Homo sapiens: one gene and its partners. The protein of the gene in region 4 purifies or fractionates together with the protein of the main gene of each other region. This does not show direct contact. Each region holds a gene or a part of one and is shown on either strand. Other genes may lie near its edges.

Evidence for each region.
Region 1: the proteins of GTF2E2 (region 4) and TPP2 purify together in Homo sapiens (affinity purification with mass spectrometry; 2 studies listed by BioGRID and IntAct, with this or other methods). This does not show direct contact.
Region 2: the proteins of GTF2E2 (region 4) and ACAA1 purify together in Homo sapiens (affinity purification with mass spectrometry; 2 studies listed by BioGRID and IntAct, with this or other methods). This does not show direct contact.
Region 3: the proteins of GTF2E2 (region 4) and RBM12 purify together in Homo sapiens (affinity purification with mass spectrometry; 2 studies listed by BioGRID and IntAct, with this or other methods). This does not show direct contact.

Annotation. Positions count from the first base shown.
Region 1 is NC_000013.11:102,599,971-102,606,995, forward strand, and holds part of TPP2 (tripeptidyl-peptidase 2), read left to right. Parts: intron 1-4,822; coding exon 4,823-4,951; intron 4,952-7,025. UniProt on the Homo sapiens protein: Cytosolic tripeptidyl-peptidase that releases N-terminal tripeptides from polypeptides and is a component of the proteolytic cascade acting downstream of the 26S proteasome in the ubiquitin-proteasome pathway.
Region 2 is NC_000003.12:38,134,105-38,141,333, forward strand, and holds the start of ACAA1 (3-ketoacyl-CoA thiolase, peroxisomal), read right to left. Parts: upstream 3,024-7,229; 5' UTR 2,932-3,023; coding exon 2,761-2,931; intron 2,582-2,760; coding exon 2,488-2,581; intron 1-2,487. Other genes in the region: myeloid differentiation primary response protein MyD88, read left to right, coding at 4,597-4,924, 5,760-5,894, 6,284-6,488, 6,653-6,744, 7,028-7,182. UniProt on the Homo sapiens protein: Responsible for the thiolytic cleavage of straight chain 3-keto fatty acyl-CoAs (3-oxoacyl-CoAs). Plays an important role in fatty acid peroxisomal beta-oxidation. Catalyzes the cleavage of short, medium, long, and very long straight chain 3-oxoacyl-CoAs.
Region 3 is NC_000020.11:35,654,899-35,661,923, forward strand, and holds part of RBM12 (RNA-binding protein 12), read right to left. Parts: intron 4,117-7,025; 5' UTR 4,032-4,116; intron 447-4,031; 5' UTR 425-446; coding exon 1-424.
Region 4 is NC_000008.11:30,606,226-30,613,250, forward strand, and holds part of GTF2E2 (transcription initiation factor IIE subunit beta), read right to left. Parts: intron 6,257-7,025; coding exon 6,074-6,256; intron 926-6,073; coding exon 832-925; intron 1-831. UniProt on the Homo sapiens protein: Recruits TFIIH to the initiation complex and stimulates the RNA polymerase II C-terminal domain kinase and DNA-dependent ATPase activities of TFIIH. Both TFIIH and TFIIE are required for promoter clearance by RNA polymerase.

The DNA of each region.
Region 1 (7,025 bases), on a different chromosome or scaffold from region 4:
TAGAGTTAGATTCCTTAAAAAAAAAAAAAAACCTTGTATTATACCCTCATTTAAAACAAAGCCATTTTGGAATCTCAACTGCTTTTGTGTAAAAATTAAAAAAAAAAATTGAATGGTATATATGAGGCCATTTGCCATCCAACTCTGGCCTCCTTATGTAGCCTCAGTTCTCATCATTTCTTATGTCCATAGCCCCTTCATCCCCACCTTTCATCCTTTGCCTCCCCTTGAACATTTCATTCTTACACTCACCTAGATGTTTCAGGTCTTTTTGCCAATACATGCCTTTACATGTGGCGTTTCATCTTCCGTCAGGCTTCTACCATCCGTCATCTGTAAACTCCTGCTTCATCCTTTAAGATCCAGTCGGGTCTTGACACCATTATGTTTTGGAAAATCAACTGATTTAATTCTGCGCGCCCCCTCCCCCCACCACCTCGTATTTATGTGTGTTTGCCATTGTGTTAGGGCCTGCAGCTTCAGAGGTGAGTAAGGCCCAATCCCTCCTAAGAGTTATTTAGGCTTTTTGTCTCTTTGCTGTTATAGCAATTTGCTTAGATCCCCTTAATAGCACCTGAAATATGTATTTTAGTGTTTCTGTTTAGATAACTTTTTCCTGGTTAACTTAAAAATCTTTGAAAGCATGTATCAAAATTGTATGACATGTGCTTGTAATGTTAAATGTTTTTGTTGAATGGAAAAAATATATATGGGCATAATGAAGGAATATAATTTCCTCATAGAGGGAAAAAAAAGGTTTGAGGAGGTTACGAGTAGTTTCATAAAACTCTATTTTTACATTCACTAAAATTTTATTACCTCTCTTTCAGTTAGCTTTCCCTCATTCCCCCCAAGTTGGGTTTTGTGTTTTTACATGTTTTTGTATGCTTTCATAGATAGTGTCCTAACCTCTTTTTTTTTTTTCCCTCAAAGACAGGGTCTCACTCTGTCACCCAGGCTGGAGTACAGTGGCACAGTGGCAGGATCACCACTCATTTCAGCCTCAAACTCCTGGGTTTAAGCAAGCCTCCTGCCTCAGCCACTGCAGTAGCTGGGACCATAAGCATGTGCCACCATACCCAGCTAATTTTTTAATTTTTTTGTAGAGACAGGGTCTCACTGTGTTACCCAGACTGGCCTGACCTCTATTATTTGTTGTCCTGTTTTGTCATCATCTCTCTACTTACTTTTTCTTTCCAACCAATAGTAACCTTTACAAAAGCAAAGATTGTCTTATTTATATTAATCATTATATTCTTAGAATAAAAGTCACTGGTTAATATTTATTAAATCTTTATTTGCTTAAAAGAATATTTTCAGTACCTTTCCTGAAATTTTAAGTCAACTCATTAACTTTGTGTTGTTTATGATAGATTGCAAACTTCCCGCCATTTGTTCTGGTCCTCTCTGCAAATGTCCTACCTTTTGTTCTGGTCCTCTCTGCAAATGTTTGGCAAATCTTCCAACCTTCACTAACTCCTCTACCTTACTGGTTACATTGAAGACATACACTAACTTAGATTCTTGACATTTTGGGAAAAGCTTTGGGCAATTTCTGTTTCATCCAGCCAACATAGCCCAGTAAGCATTTCCCAGTCTCCCACCCCAGGACCCAGGATTTAATACCGAAGCTCTTACCGATACTAACTGCCCATGCTTTCAGTCCCTCTTTCCCATGTGAAGCCTCCCCCTTCTCAGAGATGAGTGATATAGTTCCATTGTTAGCAGTTCAGCTTCCTCCTTTCCTTTACTTCTCCCAAAACACCATGGCAAATCCTCAGGGGGTTTGCCTTTTTAAAACCCTCCTCTGACCCTACATTTCTGTTTTTGTCTTTTTATGTCTAGTGAAGTGGTTTTCTTTATCTAATATTAAAGTAAGAAATTCATGGATAGGATAATTGCATGTATAATAATTTGTAATGAAAATTTGTGTGTGTAGGAGAGAGATCCTTGTAAGTAAAGCATGTGGAAATAGGTGACAAATAAGCCATTAAATCCCATTAGGCTTTTTTCCTTTGCTAATATATTGATAATGAGGTTTCTAATGAGAGATCTATCTGACTTGTTAGTGCTCTCTTGTTATTCTTGATCTCAAGTCACTCAGGTTTGCTTATTGAGGTGAAGATAGGTGATTTGGGTTCTTAGTGCTACTGTATATCTTTCAAATTTCATATTGGAATACATTTTAAAATAGGTGATTTTCTTATATGATTAGTACATGACCTAGCTAGTTTTAATTTTATAAAGTAGTATCAACTTAATTTTGTTTCCATTTTTATTTTGGTAGATTTTCTTACATTTTTCTCTTTTTTAATTATATTTTTGAGACATATAGCCTATCTCTTCAGAATCAGTATCTGATTTAAGTTTTATAGTTGTATCAGGGTTTGGTATGATTCCCACAGTGATTTTTTTTAATTATGACTTTGAGTTTTCTGAGTATTAGAATTCTTATTTGTTACTATTATAGGACAGTTCCCAAGAAGTAAACATCCAACTTGAGAATTACCATACATGAAAATAACAGCTGTGCCTGGGAGGCCTTTATGACCCCTTCAGCTATCAGGCCCTCAGTTGTTCCATGGCAACAAGATTGAAATGAGATTTGGGGTCCACCAACCACCCATTTGCTTTGTCCGGTAAAGGAAAAAAAAATGTGTGCTTTTGTTTTCTCCACATCGAGAATTTCCCTCTCCTTCTTCAGGGTATACCTTAATTACAGAGCTTGGAGGTTATTGCAGAGGAAATACTTGTGTTGGGGTGAGGGGCATGTTGGTCAGAAAGACCCAGAGCAGTGGACATTAAGCTTTGTCGTAAAGAGTGTGAATTCTCCAGGTGGAATTGGAGTCTGAAGACTGTGCTCTTCCACTTTACTGACAGTTTCTACGGTTTTTATGTTTCTGTTTCTTTCTTGAGGATGGAGTTTTTTTGTTTTTTTGTTTTTTTGTTTTTCGTTTTTTGTTTTTTTTTCAGTCGTTGTGTCTCTGTTTTCTGGCTGATTCCTGCTGGTAACTCAGTACATATTCCTGAATGCAACAAATTCCCTTTGGAAAGCCAGCCAAGAAAGAGCCCAGAAATTATTTTCCCACAAAAATGTGTAAAAATATATATTGTTACTTGTAGCAATCATGTTATGGCTCAAATGAAAATTTGTGGACTGGCAAGAAATCAAACCTTTGAAAATCAGTCTTAGTGCTAAGTAACTTGTGTCTTGTAATTCAGTAATGAAGTATTCATTGAATGCCTGACAGGCACTGCTAGGTAGTGGGTATATGTATGTTCGTGAATAAAGTAGACATGGCTCTTGCCTTCATGGAGCTTTCTATTCTAATAGGGGGAACAGATGAAGATCACCTACTTGTATCATTAGAAATAGAATTATGTTCTGTGAAGGAAATGAGGTACAGTGAGAAAAAATAATCCAGTTTAGGATGGCAGCTACCTAAAGGAGGTCATCGAGGAGGCCTTTCTGCAGGAGGGACTTTAATAGAAAACTGAGAGAAGATAGAATCCTGTGGAACAACTGAAGAGATAAAGAATTCTAGGCAGAAGGAACCTGTTTAAAAAGTCATGAGGCAGGAAAAAGTTTGGCATGTTTCAGGAATTGAAAGGAGGTTGGCGTGGTTAGACTCCTGAGTAACGGGGTGGCAGGGGTCAGATGGTGCGAGGCTTTTTATGCGAGTATTCTGAGTGCTCCATGAATACATTGATGGGCTTAAAGGAGAGGACTGATAAAATACAGCTTGTTTTAATACAGGTTGAGTATCGCAAATTCGAAAGTCTCCAATGAACATGTCCTTTGAACTTCATGTCCATGATTTTGGAGCATTTGGAATTTTCAGGTTAGGGTCACTCAGCCTGTATTACTTTTGATGGGGCCAAGAGTGGAAACTGAGGGACCACTTAGGTAATTCACCTCATGGAGGCAAGAGATGGTGGTGGTTTGGAAAGTTAGGATAGTGGTAGTGAAAATGCAATGGATTTGAGCTCTCTTCTAGACAAAGAATTAACAGGATTTCCTGTTAGCTTCGCTGTGAGGAGTCAACTGAAGTAAAGAATCAGAGGAGGATTGTTAAGTTTCCAGTGTGAACAGCTGGGCGTGGGGATTCCTGGGATGGCAAAGCCTGGAGAAAATCAGGTGGTGGGGGGCATGTTAAGCTTGAACTTTGTTGCGTTTGAGGTGCTAGTGTGGCATCCAATAATGGTGCCATTAAATGGTACCATTACTACTAAACATTTTTTCCCCCTAAAGCTCTAAACTTGTCCAGCCCACAGCTCACCATCTTTAGATCTTTTCTCAAATGTTACCATCTCAGCAAGGCCTTCCTTGACCAGCCAAACTTATGTTGAAAACCCCACACTGACCATCTCCCTTCCCTGCTTAATTTTTCTCCATAGTTAATTTTCACCATCTGACATGTTCTTTTTTTTCCCTAATACCCAGTGTGATAGCACATCTGACATGTTCTTTATTTTACTTTGTTATTAACTGAACTGCTTTCTCGCTATAAGATCGTCAGGGATTTTTGCGTATGGATCACTGCCATATCCCCAGCACCTAAAATAGGGTGTGGTCTATAGTAAATGCTCAGTAAATATTTGTTTATTGAATATATGAAACGACTTGAAGGATTCTGTAGTGTTTCCACGATTAAATTTTCTTACTAGTATTTGTTCAGGCTTTTGGCTTAAAACAGTTCAGTTCTCTTTTTTAAGTGAATGTAGATTTTGTATATACACACACATATATATGTGGATTTGCATTGTTTAGGAATAAAAACCTAAAATCTACCATTCATATTTTAATTTTCTTAATTTTCAGGTTACAACTGATGGAAAACCAAAAATCGTTGATATCATTGATACAACAGGAAGTGGCGATGTGAATACTGCTACAGAAGTAGAGCCAAAGGATGGTGAGATTGTTGGCCTTTCAGGAAGAGTGCTTAAGGTGAGACCTTTTGTCTTCTTTTTGAATTTTTTTTTTTTTACTCTTGCCTCAAAGCATCTAATGTTTTTACCTTACATTTGGTGGTGGTATTAGTTATCCATTGCCACATATCAGATTACCTCAGAACATCCTGGTTTAAAATGACAAATATTTATTACCTCGGAGTTTCTGTGAGTCAGGAATCTGGGTGTGGCTTAACGGGGTTCCAGTCGCCCTGGAGGTTGCAAATGGTTAGCCATGGCTGTGACTTCAGCTGAAGGCTCAGCTTGGGAGAAGAAGGGGAAGTTTGTTTCCAAGCCTACTGGTGGGTCACTGGCAGGCCTTGGCTCCTTGCCATTGGGCCTCTCCGCAGTGCTGCAGTACCTGGCAGCACCTTCCCTGGGGGAGTGAGCCGAGAGAGTCCCCACGATGAAAGCCACAGGCTTTTTATAAAAGTGACCTTCTAAGGGACCACCTATCACTTGACTATATTGAGCTCATTGGAAGTGAGTTAATAAATCTAGCACACACTTAAGGGGAAGGGATTTCACAAGAAATGAATCATTGGAGCTGTCTTAGAAGAAGCCATTATTTTGTTGTTTGATGAGGTAATTAGAATTGGGCGGTATTTTTCAGTGAGCTTGCCAAATTTTATGTTTTGAATACAAAGATAGAGAAAGTAACCACATCATAGCTTTGCCTTCATGTTTTACTGTCCCTTCATAGTATTCCCAGTTAACTTGACCATGAAGAAATACTTAGGCTATAGTAGCTGTTAACTTAAATGGCCAGCTTTGTCTTTTTTTTTTTTTTAAACTTCTTTTTTTCTTTTTTTTTTCGAGACATAGAGTCTTGCTCCGTTGCTCAGGCTAGAGTGCAGTGGTGCAATCTTGGCTCACTGCAACCTCCGCCTCCCGGGTTCTAGCAATTCTCCTGCCTCAGCCTCCCAATTAGCTGGGATTACAGGTGCCCGCCACCACGTCCAGCTAATTTTTGTATGATTAGTAGAGACAGGGTTTCACCATTTTGGCTAGGCTGGTCTCGAACTCTTGACCTTGTGATCCGCCTGTCTCAGCCTCCCAAAGTGCTGGGATTATAGGCGTGAGCCAGGGCACTCGGCCTACCAGCTTTGTCTTATTCTATGTCCTTGGTAGAAAGGCCTGGGTAAGCTAAACGTAAAAAATAATTATAAAGCAAGCACAGAGGAGCTCATGAGCTAAGGAGCATGAAGGATGGATGGCAAGAATTTGTGATCCTGTACTCTTAAGCAGCATTAGTTTGGAACATAAAATTATGGTTATTTAGTTAGCTTTTCCCACCTTTTGCCATCTATCTGAATTGTTCTTAGGTCTTGTCTTTTAAGTAAGCTTGTTGTGGCAGCATATTGGCTTTCTGTGCCGTGTAATAAAGCACCACAGACTTAGCCGCCTAAAACCTTGTGTATTCCTGTATTTATTATATCACTGATTCCATGGGGTAGGAGTCCAGGCATGGCTTTTTGTGGGTCTCTGCTCAGGGTCTCACAAGACTGCAGTCAAGATTAAAGGCTCAGCTGAGGCTCAGGCTTCTTTTCCAAGTTTACATGATTGTTGGAAAAATTCATTTCATTGCAGCTGTAAAACTCATGATAGCTTGCTTCTTCAAGGCCAGTAAGAGAATCTCTGACCTTGGTGATGACCCCAGTCTTTCTTTTAAAGAACTCACCTGATTAGTTCAGGCCCGCTGAGAATCATGTCACTTTTGATTTGCTCAGAGTCCTTAATTGCGTCTGCAAAATCCCTACACCTTCTTTACGTACCATAACGCAATCATGGGAGTGACATCTCATTATATTCACGGGTCCTGCCTTCACTTAGGGGAGGGACGTGGGTCTTCTTAGAAATCTGCCTGTCATGGGCAGATAGCAGCCATTAATAATCCAGGTTCTACTTCCTTTTCTGTGTGTTAGGAACTGATTATCTGTGTCCCCACCCCCTGCCAAAATTCATACATTGAAGCCCTATCCCTCTTTGTGTTGGTATTTGAAAGTTGGGCCTTTGGGAGGTATTTAGGGTTAGATGAGGTTATGAGTATGTGTCCCCTCAGGATAGGATTA
Region 2 (7,229 bases), on a different chromosome or scaffold from region 4:
CTTCGGGACACTAGCCCTTGGCAGGCTCACTTGCAACTCTGGAACATCAGGGTTTGGGGCAGGGAGAGCCAGCCATACAACAGCTTGTCCTGGTCATCCACCAGCTCCTGTCCCTGAGGGTCCCACGCTCACTTGCCCATGCACCCAGCTTTTCCAAATCAGCACAGATGGGCAGGTTGTCTGCCCTTAAAAGTGAAATGGGAGTTTCTGAAAATGCACATCTCCCCAGGTATCCTCCTGTGAGCCCTGCTGTCACCCCAGAGAGGTGGAACAGTGATTGCCGACCTAGGGGTGGCATCCGCTGGATAAGACTCTTGCCATATCATATTGCTGTATTTCAAGGTGAGGGGTGGAATAGAGGGCTGGACTGAAGATTGTGGGGAAAAGAAAGATCAGATTGTTACCGTGTGTATGTAGAAAAGGAAGACATAAGAAACTCCATGTTGATCTGTACAAAGAAAAATTGTTTCTGCTTTGAGATGCTGTTAATCTGTAACTTTAGCCCCAACTCTGTGCTCACAAAAACATGTGCTATATTGAATCAAGGTTTAAGGGATTTAGGGCTGTGCAGGATGTGCCTTGTCAACATATGTTTGCAGACAGTATGCTTGGTAAAAGTCATCGTCATTCTCCATTCTCTATTAACCAGGGACATGATGCACTGTGGAAAGCCGCAGGGACCTCTGCCCAAGAAAGCCTGGGTATTTGTCCAAGGTTTCCCCCCACTGAGACAGCCTGAGATATGGCCTCGTGGGAAGGGAAAGACCTTACTGTCCCCCAGCCCGACACCTGTAAAGGGTCTGTGCTGAGGAGGATTAGTAAAAGAGGAAGGCCTCTATTTCCCGCACATCCCTGGGAACGGAATGTCTCGGTGTAAAGCCGACTATTGGTTCTATTTACTGAGATAGGAGAAAACCGCCCTGTGGCTGGAAGCGAAATATGCTGGCAGCAATACTGCTCTGTTACTCTTTGCTACACTGAGATGTCTGGGTAAAGAGAAACAAAAATCTAGCCTACATGCACATCTCAGCACAGTACCTTCCCTTGAACTTATTTATGATGCAGATTCCTTTACTCACATGTTTTCCTGCTGACCTTCTCCCCACCATCACCCTGTTCACCCCGTTTTGCCTGAAGAGGGCCTGCCCCTCCACACCTGTGGGTATTTCTCGCAAGGTGGAGACGAGAAACTGAGAAAAGAAATGACACAGAGACAAAGTATAGAGGAAGAAAAGTGGGCCCAGGGGACTGGTGCTCAGCAATTGAGGACCTACACCAGCACTGGTCTCTGAGTTCCCTCAGTATTTATTGATCACTATCTCTACTATCTTGGCAAGAGGGATGTGGCATTATATACCATTACTATAAGGTAATGGTGGGGAGGGGGTCAACAGGAAAAAATGTGAGCAAAGGACTCAGTGTCATAAGTAAGTTTAAGGAAAGGTGCTGTGCCTGGATGTGCACATAGGCCAGATTTATGTTTGACTTTACACAAACATCTCAGTGCAGTAAAGAGCAGTATTGCCGCCAGCATGTCTCACCTGCAGCCATAAGGCGGTTTTCTCCTATCTCAGTAAATAGAATGTATGGTTGGGTTTTACACCCAAGACATTCCATTCCCAGGGACAAGCAGGAGACAGATGCTTTCCTCTTATCTCAACTGCAAAGAGGCCTTCCTCTTTTACTAATACTCCTCAGCACCGACCCTTTACGGGTGTCTGCAAAGAGGCCTTCCTCTTTTACTAATACTCCTCAGCACAGACCCTTTACGGGTGTCGGGCTGGGGGACTGTAAGGTCTTTCCCTTCCCACTAGGCCATATCTCAGACAATCTCAGTGGGGGGAAACCTGGACAATACCCAGGCTTTCTTGGGCAGAGGTCCCTGCGGCCTTTCGCAGTGCACTGTGTACCTGGTTAATCGAGAATGGAGAATGGCGATGACTTTTACCAAGCATACTGCCTGCAAACAAATGGTTAACAAGCCACATCCTGCACAGCCCTAAATCCCTCAAACCTTGATTCAATACAGCACATGTTTCTGTGAGCACAGGGTTGGGGCTAAGGCTACAGATTAACAGCATCTCAAGGCAGAAAAATTTTTCTTAGTACAGATCAAAATGGAGTTTCTTCTGTCTTCCTTTTCTACACAGACACAGTAACAGTCTGATCTCTCTTCCTTTCCCCCACACTGCCGCACTCCCCTTGCCGAGATAGTGAAAATAGTAATCAATAAATACTGAGGGAACTCGGAGACCGATGCCGGTCACCTGGGCCCACTCTACACTTTGTCTCTGCGTCTTATTTCTTTTCTCAGTCTCTCCTCCCATCTGACGAGAAATACCCACAGGTGTGAAGGGGCAGGACCCCTTCAAAGGTCAAGGCCATGGAGGTTCCCCCAGTGAAAATTCGGGGCGGGGAGGTGAGGAGAGCTCTGGACGAACGGAAGAACGGGGAAGGCCCAGCGCAGGGCCTGAGTGGTTCGCTCACCGACACAGATGTCCCCCAGCTGTTCCGGCCTCAGATTCACGTCCTTGAGAACCGCGGTCATGACTGCCGAGAGAAGCTCGTCGGGGGTGGTGTCCTGCAGCAGAAAGAGCAGCCGCAGTGACCCCCACTCCCCCATGCCCACCCCAGGGAGACAAAGCGACCACAGCTGGGTGCGGAGCTGCCTCCGGCGTCCAGGATAACCAAACATACGAACCGGACCCCAGCCCGCGCCGGCGTCTTCCCACACTCGGCGCCCAGACCCTCGGGCCTCACCTTGAAGCCGCCGCGGCCCGCCCGGCAGATGGCCGTGCGCCGCCCGTGCACCACCACCACGTCCGCGGCCGAGGCCTGCGGGGCACCGCTCAGGCAAGGCGCGGCCTGCGGCATCCAGCCGGAATCGGCCGGACCCCTCAGGTGGCCCAGCACTACCTGCAGCCTCTGCATTGCGCAGGTCAACCCTGCAGACCAGCCACCAGTCCGGGAACTGACCGCGGAGTTAACAGACAGCCGTCCGCACACGCGCAGAACCACATCTCAGCCTCCAAGGCCTCAACTCCGCCCACAGCTCTGCGAACAGACGCGAGCGACCCTCCAAAAGTCCCGTCCACCTCCAGCCTCAGCCAACCACAAGGAGAGTCGGCCTGGGAACCCGCCCCTCCCCGCCACCGCCTACCAAGCCCTCTATAGGAGGGCCCACAGGCACCGCCCAGCCGAGCTTTCCACTCAATGCCCCGCCTACCTTGGCCTACCGCAGCCAACCAGAAGGTGTATCTTTACGAATCCCCGCCCAGAAATGCAGACCGGAAGTCTTTCCACCTTTTGTAGCCAAACCCGAGACCTGACCCCCAAATCCCTGTCTCCTGCCCGCAGCCAAACGGAAGGCTGGGCAGCCAGGACCGCTTACTGCTTGGGGGCTGGAGATGGAAGCCGAGGCTCTAATTCCTCTACCCACTTCCTAGGAGGCTCTGCTATCCCTCCGGTCCCAGTACCCGAGCTGGGGGACCTAAATACTTCCGAGACGCCCGAGTCCTGCTCCGACGTGGTTGGGCTTTCCCATTCTTTCGAGAAGACAGGGAATTTGGGCTTCCGGGCTGGCCGGGAGAACAGATTTTACAGACATGCGGGGTGTGACAAGCTCTCTAACTGGAGAATGAACATTTCACACTTTTACCAGTTTTACACCCAATTGGAATGATTTTATTAGTGCCCATTTCCCGTGCTAGGCTGGGGTCTCCACCAAGGCAGAGAGGTACCATGTATCCGGGGAGCCTGCGACACCCTTGACACTTAGTAGATGATCAATAAGTACTTGTCGAATGAGTAAATGAATGAACCAGGGCTCCCCAGGTCAGGACTGTGTCCCTAAACCTAAAGGGCAAGGCCACGTGCCCCCTTGACTCCCAATAGCAGGGCCATGTCTTCACCTGAGACCCTGGAGAGTAGTGCTGGGCTTTCCACAGACACCAAAGGACAGGGTGCCTTGTGCTCCCCAACCTAGTGTCATGACGTCCCCAACCATTTCGAGGGCAGGGCCACGGCATGCCTCAGGCTCCAGAAGGCAGCTGTCCGTTTCCCACTCCCACCTCGGGGAGCACAGCAGGGGTCTTCCCATACCCCTACTGGCAGGATTGCGTGTTCCCCAGAGACAGTGGAGGGCAGAGCTGGTGCCTTCCCACTTGTCCCCTCCTCGCCATCCTCGAGGGCAGGACCGTATGAACCCCTCAGATTCCTCCGTGGAAGAACTGTGGCTCCACCAGATCCCAAAAAGCAAGGCCCGTTTCCTACAACCCCCGAAGGAGGGTCGTCCTCACTCCGCCGCCAACCTACTAGCACCATCACCAGACCCTCGAGGGCGGTGCCGTGGACCTCTCCAGATCTCAAAAGGCAGATTCCTACTTCTTACGCCCCCCACATCACCCGCCTCGAGACCTCAAGGGTAGAGGTGGGCACCCCCGCCTCCGCACTTTTGCTCGGGGCTCCAGATTGTAGGGCAGGGCGGCGCTTCTCGGAAAGCGAAAGCCGGCGGGGCGGGGCGGGTGCCGCAGGAGAAAGAGGAAGCGCTGGCAGACAATGCGACCCGACCGCGCTGAGGCTCCAGGACCGCCCGCCATGGCTGCAGGAGGTCCCGGCGCGGGGTCTGCGGCCCCGGTCTCCTCCACATCCTCCCTTCCCCTGGCTGCTCTCAACATGCGAGTGCGGCGCCGCCTGTCTCTGTTCTTGAACGTGCGGACACAGGTGGCGGCCGACTGGACCGCGCTGGCGGAGGAGATGGACTTTGAGTACTTGGAGATCCGGCAACTGGAGACACAAGCGGACCCCACTGGCAGGCTGCTGGACGCCTGGCAGGGACGCCCTGGCGCCTCTGTAGGCCGACTGCTCGAGCTGCTTACCAAGCTGGGCCGCGACGACGTGCTGCTGGAGCTGGGACCCAGCATTGGTGAGGACGTCCCCTTCCTGGCCTCGTACCTGGGGGGTGAGGAGGCTGACTTTCCGCGGCCTCAGCATCCTGTCTCCCATGGAGAGACCCCATTTCCTGCCTCGGGGGCCCGAAGAAGCCTGCAGAGGGAGAACCATGCGGGTCCCGTTCCTTCTTAATAACCGGTCGCGGTTATTAAGAAGGACTGGAGAAAGGTCCGGATAGGCGGAGATGGGAAGGAAGCAGCTTAGGCAGAGGCTTTCAGGTAGGGCCAGGAGTCAGAATCAGGCTTCTGTGGGGGCATCTGGGCTGTTTCAAGTAGAGCAACAGGACAGGTGGGGCGATTGACAGTGGACTGTCTTAGAAACCTCAAGTCCTGGGGAAATGCAGCCCTTCTTTCTACTCACTGGCACTTACATAATATACATGCATAGGCGTTGGATACAGCCGCCCACAGACAGGCACACCTTGCTGAGTTGGAATCACTGCACCATAACCAGTGGGTCTCCTGAGCCTTTCTGGCATGCCCAGCCCCTTGCTCACATCTGCCCTGGATCCCAGAAGAAGCAGACCTACCTTGGTACCATTCTTAGGATCCCTAGGAAGGGACAGAGATACAAACCTGACTTTGATGGCCTTCCAGAAAGCCAGAACACCACTGACATCCCTTTGGGTCAGTTAGAGCCAGTGGGAGCTCAACTTCTCAGAGCCGTTGAGCTTCGCGTGGCACCAGTGAACTGGGGAAGCCCTCTAGAACAACCCAGCCAGAGGAGGTGGGACAGCGGCTGGATCCTGACTGTGGGTAAAGAGGTAGGCACTCCCAGGGAGGCTGCTTTACTCTGTCTCTTCCCCACAGAGGAGGATTGCCAAAAGTATATCTTGAAGCAGCAGCAGGAGGAGGCTGAGAAGCCTTTACAGGTGGCCGCTGTAGACAGCAGTGTCCCACGGACAGCAGAGCTGGCGGGCATCACCACACTTGATGACCCCCTGGGTAAGGGTCCAATACTGTTCCCATGGGACAGGTGGAATAGGACATTGTGGTGTTAAGAGCATGGGTGTTTGAAGCAGATGGGCTGTGAGACCTTGGGCAAGTCACTTAATCTTTCTGAGCCTCAGTTTCCTCACCTAAGAAATGGAGATAATAGTCCTACCTCTGGATTGCTGTGAGATGCTCATGAAATAATGTCTGTCTCGTGGTTAATCCAGAGCTTAGCCCCTGAGGTACTCATCTTTCCTCTCCTGGAAAGGGCACTTTCTCTGAGGAGTATCATCTTGGGAAGGGTGCAGGGCCCAGGGTTGCCTAGGCAGGGGACTCTTGGCTGGATCCCTCCCAAGCCTTCCCATGGAGCTCTGACCACCACCCTTGTGCTCTGCACCCAGGGCATATGCCTGAGCGTTTCGATGCCTTCATCTGCTATTGCCCCAGCGACATCCAGTTTGTGCAGGAGATGATCCGGCAACTGGAACAGACAAACTATCGACTGAAGTTGTGTGTGTCTGACCGCGATGTCCTGCCTGGCACCTGTGTCTGGTCTATTGCTAGTGAGCTCATCGAAAAGAGGTTGGCTAGAAGGCCACGGGGTGGGTGCGTGGATGCATGAAGCCCTGCCCTGGGGTCCAGATACTGGGCATCTCCTCCTAGCTGTGCACTGTCCAGCCTGGGCACAGTGGGCCCTTCCTGAAGCTATTCCCAGGGGATATGCTGAACTAAGTTGCCACAGGACCTGCAGCCTGCCCACTCTCCCCTAGGTGCCGCCGGATGGTGGTGGTTGTCTCTGATGATTACCTGCAGAGCAAGGAATGTGACTTCCAGACCAAATTTGCACTCAGCCTCTCTCCAGGTAAGCTCAACCCTGCTCTGGCAAGAGAATGAGGGAATGTGTAGGTGGGGCCTCTGGATTGTCAGCCTTCCCTCCCCAAGGACTGTGGATGCAGTACCAAAGAACTGCTGAAGATCTCTGCACACCTGAGCATGTGTGCATGTGTGTGCCTTTTTGTGTGAGTGAATGTGTGCCAGGGGTACTTAGATGGGGGATGGCTGTTGTTAACCCTGGGGTTGAAGACTGGGCTTGTCCCACCATGGGGCAAGGGCCTGATGCCAGCATGGCACCCCTTGGCTTGCAGGTGCCCATCAGAAGCGACTGATCCCCATCAAGTACAAGGCAATGAAGAAAGAGTTCCCCAGCATCCTGAGGTTCATCACTGTCTGCGACTACACCAACCCCTGCACCAAATCTTGGTTCTGGACTCGCCTTGCCAAGGCCTTGTCCCTGCCCTGAAGACTGTTCTGAGGCCCTGGGTGTGTGTGTATCTGTCTGCCTGTCCA
Region 3 (7,025 bases), on a different chromosome or scaffold from region 4:
CATGAACAGAAGTGGTGGCAGTAACTACACTGGGTGATGGATTATTAAAGTTGGATACTGTTGTGGGCAAGTTTACCCTGCTACTCATTCCTGAGCTAGGTGGTGGTCCTGATCTACTGGCATTTGCTGGTGGTATATCTAAGTTGGCAGTTTCAAAACGCCTACGACTCAGTTCAATCATATTCTGCATTTCCGTCTTACTACTCAACAATAGTGTTACTTTTGACCCTTTAATTGTACCACCTGTGCGCATCATACCAAGCCTTGCATCTTCATCAGTGGCAAAAACGATGAAAGCCTCACCCAGTTCACCCCCTACAATATGCACGCCCCCATCAGGAATGGTCAATCCAGAGAAGAAGTGGCGAATGTCCATGGTCCCCGCCACAATTGGGAGACCTTGCAAACGGATGACCACAGCCATGCTGCGCTGAAACCACACACACCTGCAGATGAGAAAAGGCAACGGCCAGGTCAGACTCCTGTTTATCACACCAAGTTTTTAGCTACAAGAATGACCAGCTACCATATTAGGCCCTCAAATATTCCCTCAAGCTATCACAGGCAATGTCTTTAATTTAGATATTCTAAAAACTGAACATTACGTGCCATTTACAATGTAAAACGTAGACAATTTCAACTTCCAGAAGGCATTAATTTTGGAAACAGTTCAGTCCCAAGACTCAAAAAGTTCAAGAAAAAACAACTGTAGGACAGTAAAATACATATACATCATTCAGACCACTAATCATTCAGTAAGATTTAAAAGAAATGTCTAAGTCAAATCAGGAAACAAAGTTTAACAATCTATAGGGAAAAAACATGCAAAGAATATATAGAAGTTAGTATTTAAAACTGGCTTAGCATCTTCCCTATATACTTGATAATTTCATAGAATTATCAAGAGTGTGATTTTATAGAGCTCAGTCTCAAAATCCATCCAACAGAAGCAAAAAACTAGAATACTAATGAATTGTAAATAATACTTAAGACTAAAAGTAGATTCAAGTCTTAAATGAGAACTGGTTCCATTATTTTATTCATCCTAAAACTTTTCAATCTGCCTTGTACATTACAAAAAACTACATATGGAATTATTTATTATAAACAAGGTTAAGACATACTAAGAAGCCAAAAGAACTACTGAATAGGACAGCTAAAATCTGAGTTACCTTGATTCATTACCCCCAAAAGTAGAACCTGGTTATAGTCCCATTCACTGTGACTATTTTAATTAAAACTCAGGTCCAATGACTCATAACCAAATCCTCTATTTAATAAAATTTTTTAAAGTATTATTTTCCCCTAGGAGAGGGCTGACAATAAAAATATTTTTTGTTTTTGTTTTAGAACCAGAGTGTGAATTACTCAGTGGTTGTTACAGTCTTGGACCTACACAACTCCTACAGGATCTCTGTGATCTCCTTAGATCATGCCTGTTTTGACATAATCAAAAAAGAAATGTTCCCCTCAAATTTCAGTATTTCAGTTCCAAAGGCTTCTAAGAGCAAATTCAAGGGCAGCCCTTTGGAAAGTGACACAAACCGAATTATTGGGCCTGGGAAACATACTACTTTGAAATTAAGGTGGTCAATAACATAGGGTGTTTTCCAACCCATCTGAAAAGTCAACTTTTATTTATTTATTTATTTTGAGACAGAGTTTCACTCTTGTAGCCCAGGCTGCAGTGCAACGGCACGATCTCGGTTCACGGCAACCTCCACCTCCCAGGTTCAAGTAATTCTCCTGCCTCAGCCTCCCAAGTAGCTGGGATTACAGGCATGCGCCACCATGCCTGGCTAAGTGTTTGTATTTAGGAGAGATGGGATTTCACCTGACCTCAGGTGATCCACCCTCCTCAGTCTTCCAAAGTGCTGGGATTACAGGCGTGAGCCACTGCGCCCCACCTGAAAAGTCAACTTTTAAATATAAGCCCATAAAATCAGCTCATGACCCTCAGAAAGGTTATAAATTAATGAAGAGATTTGGTTTTATCACTTCTCAAGAATATTAGAAGGGGCAAGATTTTCTACTATAAGCTCTAAGAATTCTGTAACTTCATTGTCAAATATTATATAAATACTAATGCAACAAAATCTGTAATTATATCTCAATATTACAACTGCCGTATACAAACAAGAAACAAACTGCTTGGCTTTGACAGTTTTCTCACAGACACATACACAAAAATAAAAAGCCACCTTCAAATTTAATCCAGAAAAATGGACTAGCAAACAGAAAATGCTTTTTGTGAGGCCATTATAAAGCACTAGAAATTTGGGAAGTGTGGGGAAGCTTTTCATTTACAAACTTCAAGAGTCAACAAGAAAAATTAACGCTAAAAAACATCACACCAACAGTCTCTTTTCTCATTTACTATTTAGCAGCCTATAAGGAGGTTCATCAAGCAGTTTCCAAGTCATTAAATCAAATTCACATTCCTTGCTCAATCTAGAATATGTGGCTGTATGCAAAATGTGATAGCATTTCCTGTTCAACTTCAAAAAACGGTTAATCACTTTGTATAGGGGAAACATCATGGGCAATCCAGGTACTCAAAACAACTTGAGAGAGAGAGAGAGACTAGTTTGCACTGGGACAATCAAACAGAAACTTGATATAGTCCCAAGAACACAAAAATTAAACACAGGGCTAAAGTGACATACACAGTTAAGTCTTCAAGCCATTTTCTGTTAAGAGCAGGGATTTACTGAAAGTTTGTACAAGGTACACATGAGAATATGCTATTGAAAATCTGCCTCAGATTACCAGCTGGAAAGGGCTGAATATTAAACCAAAGTGGAATACAAGATTTATTCATAAAGCCATCTGATGAGAAAAATTGTTTCTAGCTTCCAAAAAATATGAAATAATATCCGCAGCCAGGTGCGGTGGCTCACACCTGTAACCCCAGCACTTTGGGAGGATGAGGTGGGTGGATCACCCGAGGTCAGGAGTTCAAGACCAGCCTGGCCAACAAGGTGAAACCCCGTCTCTACTAAAAACACAAAAAATTAGCTGGGCATGGTGGCAGGTGCCTGTAATCCCAGCTACTAGGGAGGCTGAGGCAGAAGAATCACTTGAACCCGGGAGGCAGAGATCACGCCACTGCACTCCAGCCTGGGCAACAAGAGCGAAACTCTGTCTCAAAAAGAAATAAATAAATAAAACAAATAAAAATTTAAAAAAAAATTTAAAAAAGTATCTGCTTTTCTGTTACTAAGTAACTGTTTGACAGCTAAGTCATTTCAACCTAACTTGGGCCTATCTTAGTTACTTAAACAAGAGGGTTAGATTCCACTTGCTAAGGTTCCATTTAAAGTCTAAAATTTGTACTCTAAAACATGTGACCCATTATCTATACTTAAACTCTTAGGAAATATAAATAAACATATCAATAACAAGCATCTGTATTTGTAATTAGTCTAAAATGCTACTAAGGAATAAAACTTACTGCCTATCAGGAAAATCACAAGATAAATAGATCCATATAAATGAAATTGACCCCCAAAGGAACAACTGTTCAAAGCACCCATCTACCCCACCCCTATCCCTCAGATAAACTTGTAAAAAACCACACCGGCCTGGGTGGCGGCTCATGCCTGTAATCCCAGCACTTTGGGAGGCTAAGGCAGGTGGATCACAAGGTCAGGAGTTCAAGACCAGCCTGGCCAAGAGGATAAAACCCCATCTCTACTAAAAATACAAAAAAATTAGCCGGGTATGGTGGCAGGCGCCTGTAATCCCAGCTATTCGGGAGGCTGAGGCAGAGAAGTGCTTGAACCCGGGAGGCGGAGGTTGCAGTGAGCCGAGATGGCACCACTGCACTCCAGCCTGGGCAACAGAGTCTAGCCTGGGCAACTGAGCAAGACTCCGTCTCAAAACAAAAAACAAGCAAACAAAAACACACACACACACACACACACACACACACACACACAATATAGTTGCTACATATATTTTCATATTTCTTAATAAGCTATCTCATTTTATTTTGTATAAAAACGAACTCTCTATTCAAAATCTCTTACCTGATAAAACAAGAGATGAATTTCCTTAACAAGAAGTAGAGGCCAAGTCAATCCTGTGGGCAACCAATTAAAACCAACTTTTAGACTGCAATAGAGAATAAACGGAGGCAAAAATCAATGCAGGAAACACAAAACAACACGCACAGGCCACACTGTACATTACGAAGGCGAGTCTGAAACCACCAGAGTACTTCATTAGAATGCATATCAAAAAAAAAAAAAAAAAGAAAGACACCGTAACAAAATCCCACACATGCTTTTTAGTTGGTATTGCTTTCAAATTTGAGTATCTCAAAATAATTATATATTTACAAGAGTGTCATTAACTTAGCCCAATAACGAATCCACTGAAAATTAAAACAGTCATAAAGCTCAGCTTCACAGCTAATTGCTTTGATCACTTTATAATTAAACCAGTCCAGAAAACTCCGTAACACAAGTCTATTTCCCCAGGTTCTCACCAAATTTGTGATGAAAAGGCACAAGTTCGCACAATAACAATTCTTGGACAACTTAAGATAGCAATTCAAGGGTACTCATGGAAATTACTGCAATTATTCTTTCAATATATTTTATTTTGCACAAAATAGCATCCAACATCACAAAACAAATGAAGTATGAGTTCTTGCTATAAGGACTAATTCCACTGGAGCTCAAAATATTAACAAAATATTAAGGGAAAGTGTTTTTTCCTCTGACATCACAACAGTTCTCAAAAACTTGTAAAATTTAAATAAATAAAATAAAATAAAATTTAAAAACACCCTAAAAATGCCTGACATATTAAGAGTATATCCCAAAATAAAAACAGGTCACTCATCTTTCACTGTCATTTCTTCCAAACTGGTGAGGTTATTAACAAGTCACAAGCATATATGACCAAATGTCTAGACAACTATATTCAAAGGTCATTTTTTGCTTTTTATTTTTTTTCAAAGGTCATGTTTTAATTCGGAGAGAGAAGAAATTTGCCACTGTTCAGTATTAAGATTACCTACGACTACTTTTCCAAATGATGCTCATCTTAAATTAGTATCTTCCAAGACCAAAATACAACTAATGACCTTAATATTCATCGCCAAAAAGTAAAACATATTTCAAAAATCTGTGTGATTTTCTAAAGGACAAACTATTCATCGTCTAGTCAACTACTCAAGTTGCTAAAGAATAGTGAGATGGTTTTACCACAAAAAGCTATGCAAATATGTAATCAACACAATCAAAAGTCTAGAGCATTGTATTAATCTTTTACATGTTGTAGAAATCTAGCCTCTTTTTTTTTTCTTTTTTTGAGACAGGGTATCGCTCTGTCGCCCAGGCTAGAGTGCAGTGGCGCGATCTAGGCTCATTAGGCTCATTGCAACCTCCGCCTCCCTGGGTTCAAGCTATTCTCATGCCTCAGCCTCTGGAGTAGCTGGGACTGACTACAGGCTTGCGCCACCACCCGCAGCTTATTTTTGTATTTTTAGTAGAGACAGGGGTTTCATTATGTTACCCAGGCTGGTCTCTTAACTCCTCACCTCAAGTGATCCACCCGCCTCAGCCTCCCAAAGTGCTGAGATTACAGGTGTGAGCCACCACGCCTGGCCTAGCCTAACTAAGTCTAAGGAGTTTAAAAATTCTTCATTTGAAAGCCATATCTAGTAGTTTAACAGGTCACAAAGGAAAATGTGAAACAGAAAAAAACCTGCTTCAAGTAAAGCAATGAGCAAGAGCATGAAGTACTGTAATATTTATGTACAGGTTTGACTCCAGCAGCCACATAACAGGGTAACTTTCTAGTTTCTAGAACTTGTAATAAACATCTGATCCCTACTGGAGATTCCAATTCAAAAGGTCAGGTATGGGGCCAGGGCATATGCCTGAATATAAGGTAAGAAGGTTCCTCTCAGCCTCTTCCCTTGCAAACTCAAAAGATACCGTATGTCTATCTTGAGAAGGACATATCTGGGGTCAGCCAGTTAAGCTCAAAGGGAACTCACCAGGTCTACTCTCAAAAATTTCTAAAAGGTTACCAGAAATTACCTTTAAAAGGAAGATATTTCTCATTCCACAAGGCAAGGCTGAAAGGCCCAGCTGAATTTGACAAATGCCTAGTTCAAGTTTTATGTGTACAACTTAAAGCACAAAATCAATCCAGATAGAAATTTATGATTCTCTTCTATTTCAGCAAAGAGGAATACCCACCCCACCCCATACCAAGGAAAACCATGCAGAAAGTTGATGCTACAAGTCAGAACTTCACAACCCTTGGTATTATACCTCTTCAAAAGGGAAAGGTAAATGGAAATAGAACTGAAATACTTCTGTGTTGACACCTCACTTTGTAAAAACCACAAGAATTTAACATAAGTGTCACTGTTTTCCAGGAAACTACTATTCCTGTATTCTAAATGTCAGCTAGCGACTGAATGCAGGATTTCAAAAATCCACGCCATTTACCTAAAGCTTTGCTGAACTTTAGAAGGATAAGACTAAAATAATAACTAAACAATAAAACATCTAAAATACATATTCTATCTATACATACAGCATAATGATAGGAAAGGAGAAAATGGGCCTGATTTGTCATTAAAGCCACTGATATACTTCAGAAGATCTAAAACAAGAAGCTGGCTTTAGTATGTTTTCCATTCATATTATCAGGAATTAGTCCTAACATAAAGGCTTGCTTCAACTTGACAAAATACCGGATGCATGCACAAATCACAAGTATCTGCTACAAAAATTTAACATATTATGGCAAGACAGACTTTCGTATTTACTAGCCATTCTAATCACTTGGAATTTCAGAAAAAAATGTCTGACAACAAATCTCTTCATCAAGAAGTCAAGGCACAAACTAAAACGACTATTTTCACTCTTCATCTGGTAGTAAACATCCAAAAGTGAACTTTAACTTTGTTCAGTTATCACTCTTTAATCAACAAGAACCAGGGTACAGCAGAGCTAGGTTCTTCAGATCCAAAAGAAACAAACTCTCAAATGTTCACC
Region 4 (7,025 bases):
ACTCAATTGGGATTTTCACAAAAATACAATTTCCTAAAACAAGTTCAGGGAAACTAAAGCCCTATCTACCAGAACCACAAGCCTGGATATCTATAGACAGATAACAAAAGGAAAACTTAAGGTTACTGCACAAATCACAAAATCAATTAAATTGATGTCCAATTATTTTCCTGCCATTTTATAAAACTTCAAAAGTAATACAAATTTACAGTAAAATACCACCAACACTTGCTAAAATGGCAATTGGTAAACTTGAATAATACATTTTTCATCACTAAACCCTTGTTTAATGACAAATTATTGACAAAAATTTAAAACTAAAGTCCAAACATACGTATCATATACTTAGTAAGAGATTCAATATACAGCTTAGCATCCAACTCCACAATTTCCAGAAAGAAAAACATCATCTCCTTCCTTATTCAATTTGATAACTGAAAGATTCATAAGATAAGAGAACACTATTCACCAATAAAAGTTTATTCTTTTTCCCATCCTGTATCAAGCTTTTGTATCAGGATATGAACTTACATTTGTAAAAGTCTAAAGATAAAGAAATAAACCCGTTTGGTTCAGTTGAGCTATAAACATTAAGAAATCCTGAACTGCGATTGTAAGTATAATTAACCTAAAATCTTTCAAATCACATATTTCAAATTGCATTCTAAGCAACAATATGTTAGACACAGGGGCCACTGGCTGTGTTCTAAGAAATGATAATGCTAAAAAAGCAATATAAGATTTAAATTATAATTGTATTATAAATATTAATTTTACCACCCTAAAATTGTAATATACTTGCAAACTAAAGTATAATACAGAAAAGCTCACCTTCATCCACAGAAAACTGACAGCTCTTATCATTGAAGAAAAGTATTTTCTTCTTATCGGGACGATTTACAAATAGTATCTGGTCCCCCAAAGCCTTAAAGATAGATAAAATAAAGATTTTTCAGTTAACTCCAAATTACCTCACCAAAAAAAAAAAAAATTTAAACAATAAAGGAGTTTCATTTCCTTAACACACTCAGTATACCACCATAGGGTCCTCCACCATAGGTCCACTGGACCCAATTTTAGTTTTAGTTTTGTTTTTAAGAGACTCCACCCAGACTGGAGTGCAGCTCACTGCAGCCTCAACCTCCCAGGCTCAAGCAATCCTCCCACCTCAGCCTCTGGAGTAACTGGGACCACTGGTGCATTGCCACCACGTCTAGCTAATGTTTTCAATTTTTTGTAGACAAAGGGTCTCACTATGTTGCCAGGGCTGGTCTTGAACTCCTGGGCTCAAGCGATCTTCCCACCTCAGCATCAGAAAGTACAGGGACTATAGGTGTGAGCCACTGCACTCAGCCCCAATTTTAGTTTTTGAGTTTCTTTCTTGAGTAGTTCAATTTTTTAAAAATTGATATTTCCAGACTTGTATTCTTAGAGGTCTTCCAAAGAACAAAAATAAAACGTGTTTCACTTAAAACGGAAAATTCAATCTTTGCTGCAATTACTATTTGGGTCCATGGGGCTCTTTCACTAATCTAAGACACATAATAGAATCTTGGTGTTCTTACTTTTCCTCTACCTTGAGATATTTCGCTCCTTACTCATCATTACCCATCAATTATTTCCAATTGTGCTTTTAAAACGCTAAAATAATAAGAAAATAGAAGAATGATTAAATCACCTAGAAATGTGATGCAATAGTGAAATACATGGGCATCCTTCAGTTTTCTTACTGCATTGCCCAAAGGATTACATTACTCCTTTTCAAGAGATATAAAAGATTGGAAGAGTCTTCTTGTTGTCTTTTAACTTTCATTGAGTACACCTGACAAAAAAAATTTTGTATTTTCTACCCTTGAGAGCAAAGACAAGAAAACTGACCAAAGACATTTCACAATTATTAGATGAATCAAAATATGAATGCAAAAAGCCAAATAGCAGCACTCTAGACTATCTGGCAAAAATTCATCATAGGAATAAAGTCTCAAGCTATGGAGTCTTTAGATGACAATAACTCAAGTGAAGATTCTCAAGCTTAAGAATCAACAAGCGAACAAAATGCTTCTCAATACAAAATGGAAACAATATTCTCATCCCGTTATTCACCAGAAGATTATCACACAGTATTTTGTGAAAAGAATCTTTATCATCTCACTTTGCTAAAAGGATATATGACAGTATTCTTCTTTTTGATGTGTTTTCCAAAAATTACTTGATACAGAAGTTTGCTGTGTTAAATTCTTACTAAAATCTCTAATAAAGCTGTTTTCATCATCCCATTATTCTTACTTATGTAAATTATTCATAAAATGACTTAAAGTAGCTTAAAAATAATAGTCCACTAGATCAAGGTGGTAAAAGGTGATAACTACAGGATGAGCAACCCAAATCCCAAAATCTCGAATCCAAAATCCAAAACTTTTTAAGTGCTGACATGACATGCCAAAGAAATACTTACTGGGGGCCAGGTGTGATGGCTCACACCTATAATCCCAGCACTTTGGGAGGCAGGAGGATCATTTGGGGTCAGGAGTTTGTTTGTTTTGAGACGGAGTCTCACTCTGTCAACCAGGCTGGAGTGCAGTGACGCGATCTTGGCTCACTGCAAGCTCCGCACGGTGGCTCACGCCATTCTCCTGCCTCAGCCTCCCGAGTAGCTGGGACTACAGGTGCCCGCCACCACGCCCGGCTAATTTTTTGTACTTTTTAGTAGAGACAGCGTTTCACCATGTTAGCCAGGACGGTCTCAATCTCCTGACCTCGTGATCCACCCGCCTCGGCCTCCCAAAGTGCTGGGATTACAGGCGTGAGCCACTGCACTCGGCCGAGGTCAGGAGTTTTGAGACCAGCCTGGTCAACATGGTGAAACCCCATCTCTACTAAAAATAGAAAAATTAGCTGAACACGGTGGCAGGTGTCTGTAATCCCAGCTACTTGGGAGGCTGAGACAGGAGAATCTCTTAAACCAAGGAGACAGAGGTTGCAGTGAGCTGAGATCACCCCACTGCACACCAGCCAGGGCAACAGAAAGAGACTCCGCCTCAAAAAAAAAAAAAAAGAGAAAGAAAGAAAGAAAGAAATACTCACTGGAGCATTTTGGATTTCAGATTTTCAACTCTGGAATGTTTAAACTGGTATAATGAAAATATCCCAAAATTTGAAAAAAATCCCAAAATCTGAAACAGTTCTGGTCCCAAGCATTACAGATAAGGGACAGTCAAATTGTACATACATAAAATAAATGAAAGAACCTGAAGGCATTGCTAAAAAAAATTAAAGACATGAATAAATGAATTCTGTGCTCATGTATTAAAAAACTTAATACAGTTACGATGGCAATACTACCCAAAGTTACCTATTCAAGGTAATCCCTATCAAAATCCCAATGGCATTTTTTGCAGAAATGGAAAAATCCATCCAAAAATTTATATCAAATCTCAAGGGACCTCAAAAAGCCTGAAATGGTTTAGATCTGTGTCCCCATCAAATCTCATGTCAAACTGTAATCCCCAATGTTGGAGGTGGGGCCTGGTGGGCGGTGACTGGTATGAAGGTGGATTTCCCTCTTGGTGCTGTTCTCCTGATAATGAGTTCTCATGAGATCTGGTCATTTAAAAGTGTGTGGCACCTTCCCCACTCTCTCTTGCTCCTGCTCCGGCCATGTAAGATGAGCCTGTTTCCCCTTCACCTTCTGCCATGATTATAAGTTTCCTGAGACCTCCCCATAAGCTGAGTAGACACCAGCATCATGCTTCCTGGAGAGCCTGCAGAACTGTGAGCCAAATCAATCTCTTTTCTTTATAAATTATCCAGTCTCAAGCATTCCTTTATAGCATTGCAAGAATAGACTAATACATAGCCAAAACAATCTTGAAAAAGAACAAAATTGGTGATCTCACTCTTACTGATTTCAAAATATATTACAGAGCTACATTAATCAGGCCAGGTGCAGTGGCTCACACCTGGAATGCCACCACTTTGGGAAGCCGAGGGTGGGCAGATCACTTGAGGTCAGGAGTTCGAGACCAGACTGGCCAACATGGTAAAACCACATCTCTACCAAAAATAAAAAAATTAGTTGGGTGTGGTGGTGTGTGCCTATAATCCCAGCTAATCAGGAGGCTGAGGCAGGACTACTGCTTGAACCTGGGAGGCAGAGGTTGCAGTGACCCAAGATTGCATCACTGCACTCCAGCATGGGTGACAGTGTGACTCTGTCTCAAAAAAAAAAAAAAAAAAAGGCTACATTAATCAAAACATTGTAGTGCTGGCATGAAGAAAGACATACAGGCAGAATAGAGGGCCCAGAAATAAACCTTCACATATATGGTCAAATGATCTTCCACATGAGTACCAAGACTAAGACTATTCAATGGGCAAAGGACGGTCTCTTCATCAAGACACTGAGAAAACTGGATATCCACATGAAAAGGAATAAAGTTGGACTCTTACACCATATACAAAAATTAACTCTAAATACCTAAGACCCAAAACTATAAAACTCCTAGAAGAAAACATAGGACAAAAGCTTCATGACATTAGATTTGGCAGTGATTTAAACATGATACTAAAGGCACAGGCAACAAAATCAAAAATAGACAAGAGTGCAGCAAACTCAGAAACTGGCAAATTAAAGAGCACAATCAACAGAGTAAAATGGCAACCTACAGAATGGGAGAAAATATTTGCAAATCATGTATCTGTTAAGGAATTAATATCCAGAATATATTTTTTAAAACTCCCACAATTCAACAACAAAAACACAATGGAATATTATTCAGCTTTAAAAAGGAAGAAAATCCTGTTGCAAGTACAACATGGATGAACCTTGAGAATATTATGCTAAGTGAAATAAGCCAGTCTTGGAAAAAGATTCCAAGATTCCAAGCAAACGGGCTAAGGCTAGAAGAACAGAAGAGACATATCATATGCTACCTGCTGTAGGGCAGACAAGGTTTGGAGTAACTGCCCACTTAACCACAAAACAAAACAAATAGAAACACTCTTGGGAGGAATGTAACAGAATCCTGAGTCTTTACACATATTAATATAATCCACAAGGTCTAAGACCCAACAGAAATGTATTAGATATATGAAGAAACAGGAAAATATGACCCATAAAAGAGACAGTCAATGCAGACCAGCTCTGAGATGACTCGGCTGTTAGAATAAGAAGAATTTTAAAGCAGCTATAAGAAATCATACTTAAGGGTGTAACAAAAGATACTTGTCACGAATGGAAAAAAAAGAAAACAAAATTCAGCAAAGAAACAGAAACCAGAAGAAAAATTTACAAAGAAAGACTAGAACTGAAAAATACAATTAAAAAATTCACCAACTGGGCTTAACAAGTTGGAAGTGAAGAAGAAAAGTGAGTGAACTTGACAATGGATTAATAGAACAGAAAAAAAATTGAAATAAATAAACAGAGCCTCAGGGACTTGTAGTACAATACCAGAAGATCTGACATGTATAATTCCATTACCAAGAAGAAGAGACAAAGGGGCAAGTTTTCTTCTACAGGCAGCAAAATGAATGAACCTGCTTAACAAGTTAACATTAATAATGAGCAACTGTGACAAATGGAAACAAGCAGCTTTCCCCAGTGAGTTTCAAATTTAAACTGGAAATGTCATCTGTATCAGTAGGACTTTCATAGATAGCCCCTTTAGGACTTCAAAACAGCCAGGTTATTAACCAATGCTTTCATGTTTTAATGCCTCTAGTTCCTCAGGTAAGGAACATCTACTAGTATTATAGAAGACACTCTTATTTACAAACAGAGCTTACAAGAGAAACTCTATTGCCTTTGAGGAAAATTTTCCAGAAATAGCCTGAACAATCAAACAATCATATAGTAACAGCAACAAGAACCCGTCAAAGTTACACAGAGATGGCTGCTCCCTTTCCTGCTAGGTGGCACAAGACAAATTTCAAACCTTCAAGTGGCTCACTGTAACCCATGTGTATATAATAGAAGCTTTAAAAACAATTGTAAAATGTTTGATATTTTTAAAACCAAGAAGTCATTATTCATTCAAATTATATTAAGACATAGAAAGAAAAGAGAGATTACCTTGACAGCTTTCTGGGAATTGGGCAGTGCTTCTTCTATGTCTTCTAAAAGAATTCCTCCTAATCCTCGCTGGTCATGCTGATCTAAGAGCCTAAGTAGGGCCTTCTTATCTCTCACGTTGTACTTGGGCTTGAAAGCATACTTCCCATCTATTACTTCAATTTTGGGATTGTTGACTAAAGCCTGTAACAGTGATACAATTGGAATATATTAACAAATGGAACATAAATATATATATATATTTTTGAAACGTAATCTTGCTCTGTCGCCCAGGCTGGAGTGCAGTGGCGTGATCTCAGCTCACTGCAACCTCCGCCTCCTGGGTTCAAGCGATTCTCCTGCCTCAGCCTCCCTCTCCTGCCTCCCTCCCTCTCAGCACCTGGGACTGCAGGTGCGCACCACCACACCCAGCGAATTTTTGTATTTTTAGTAGAGACGGGGTTTCACCACATTGGCCAGGCTGGTCTTGAACTTCTGACCTCAGGTGATCCACCCACCTCAGCCTCCCAAAGTACTGGGATTATAGGCGTGAGCCACTGTGCCCAGCCCATATACACATTCTTAATTCTACTAATTATTTTAAAATACAACACTAGCCAATACAGTGGCAAATTAAAAGTACCTTATGAATACAAACTGGCAGGCCTAAAATCCTGGACATCCAGAATTCCAGAACAGTAGATCAGCACGGTGCTCACTTTTTATAAAAGAAACTGTGTTTTATTTACATAAATTCTTTGAAGAGAAATAAACCATTTTATCACAACTACTTTGAAAAAAGCTGAACCCATATTCTTCTAGTAGTCAAAATGTGTAGGAATCAATAAAACACCTACAAATATTAATAGACAAAGTGAACTGAGTAGTGCCCACTCCATCTGCAAAGTACAGCTTATCACATACTGGCATTATAAAGTAAGGAACATAACCCTTACTAGTCAATGGTCTTCCC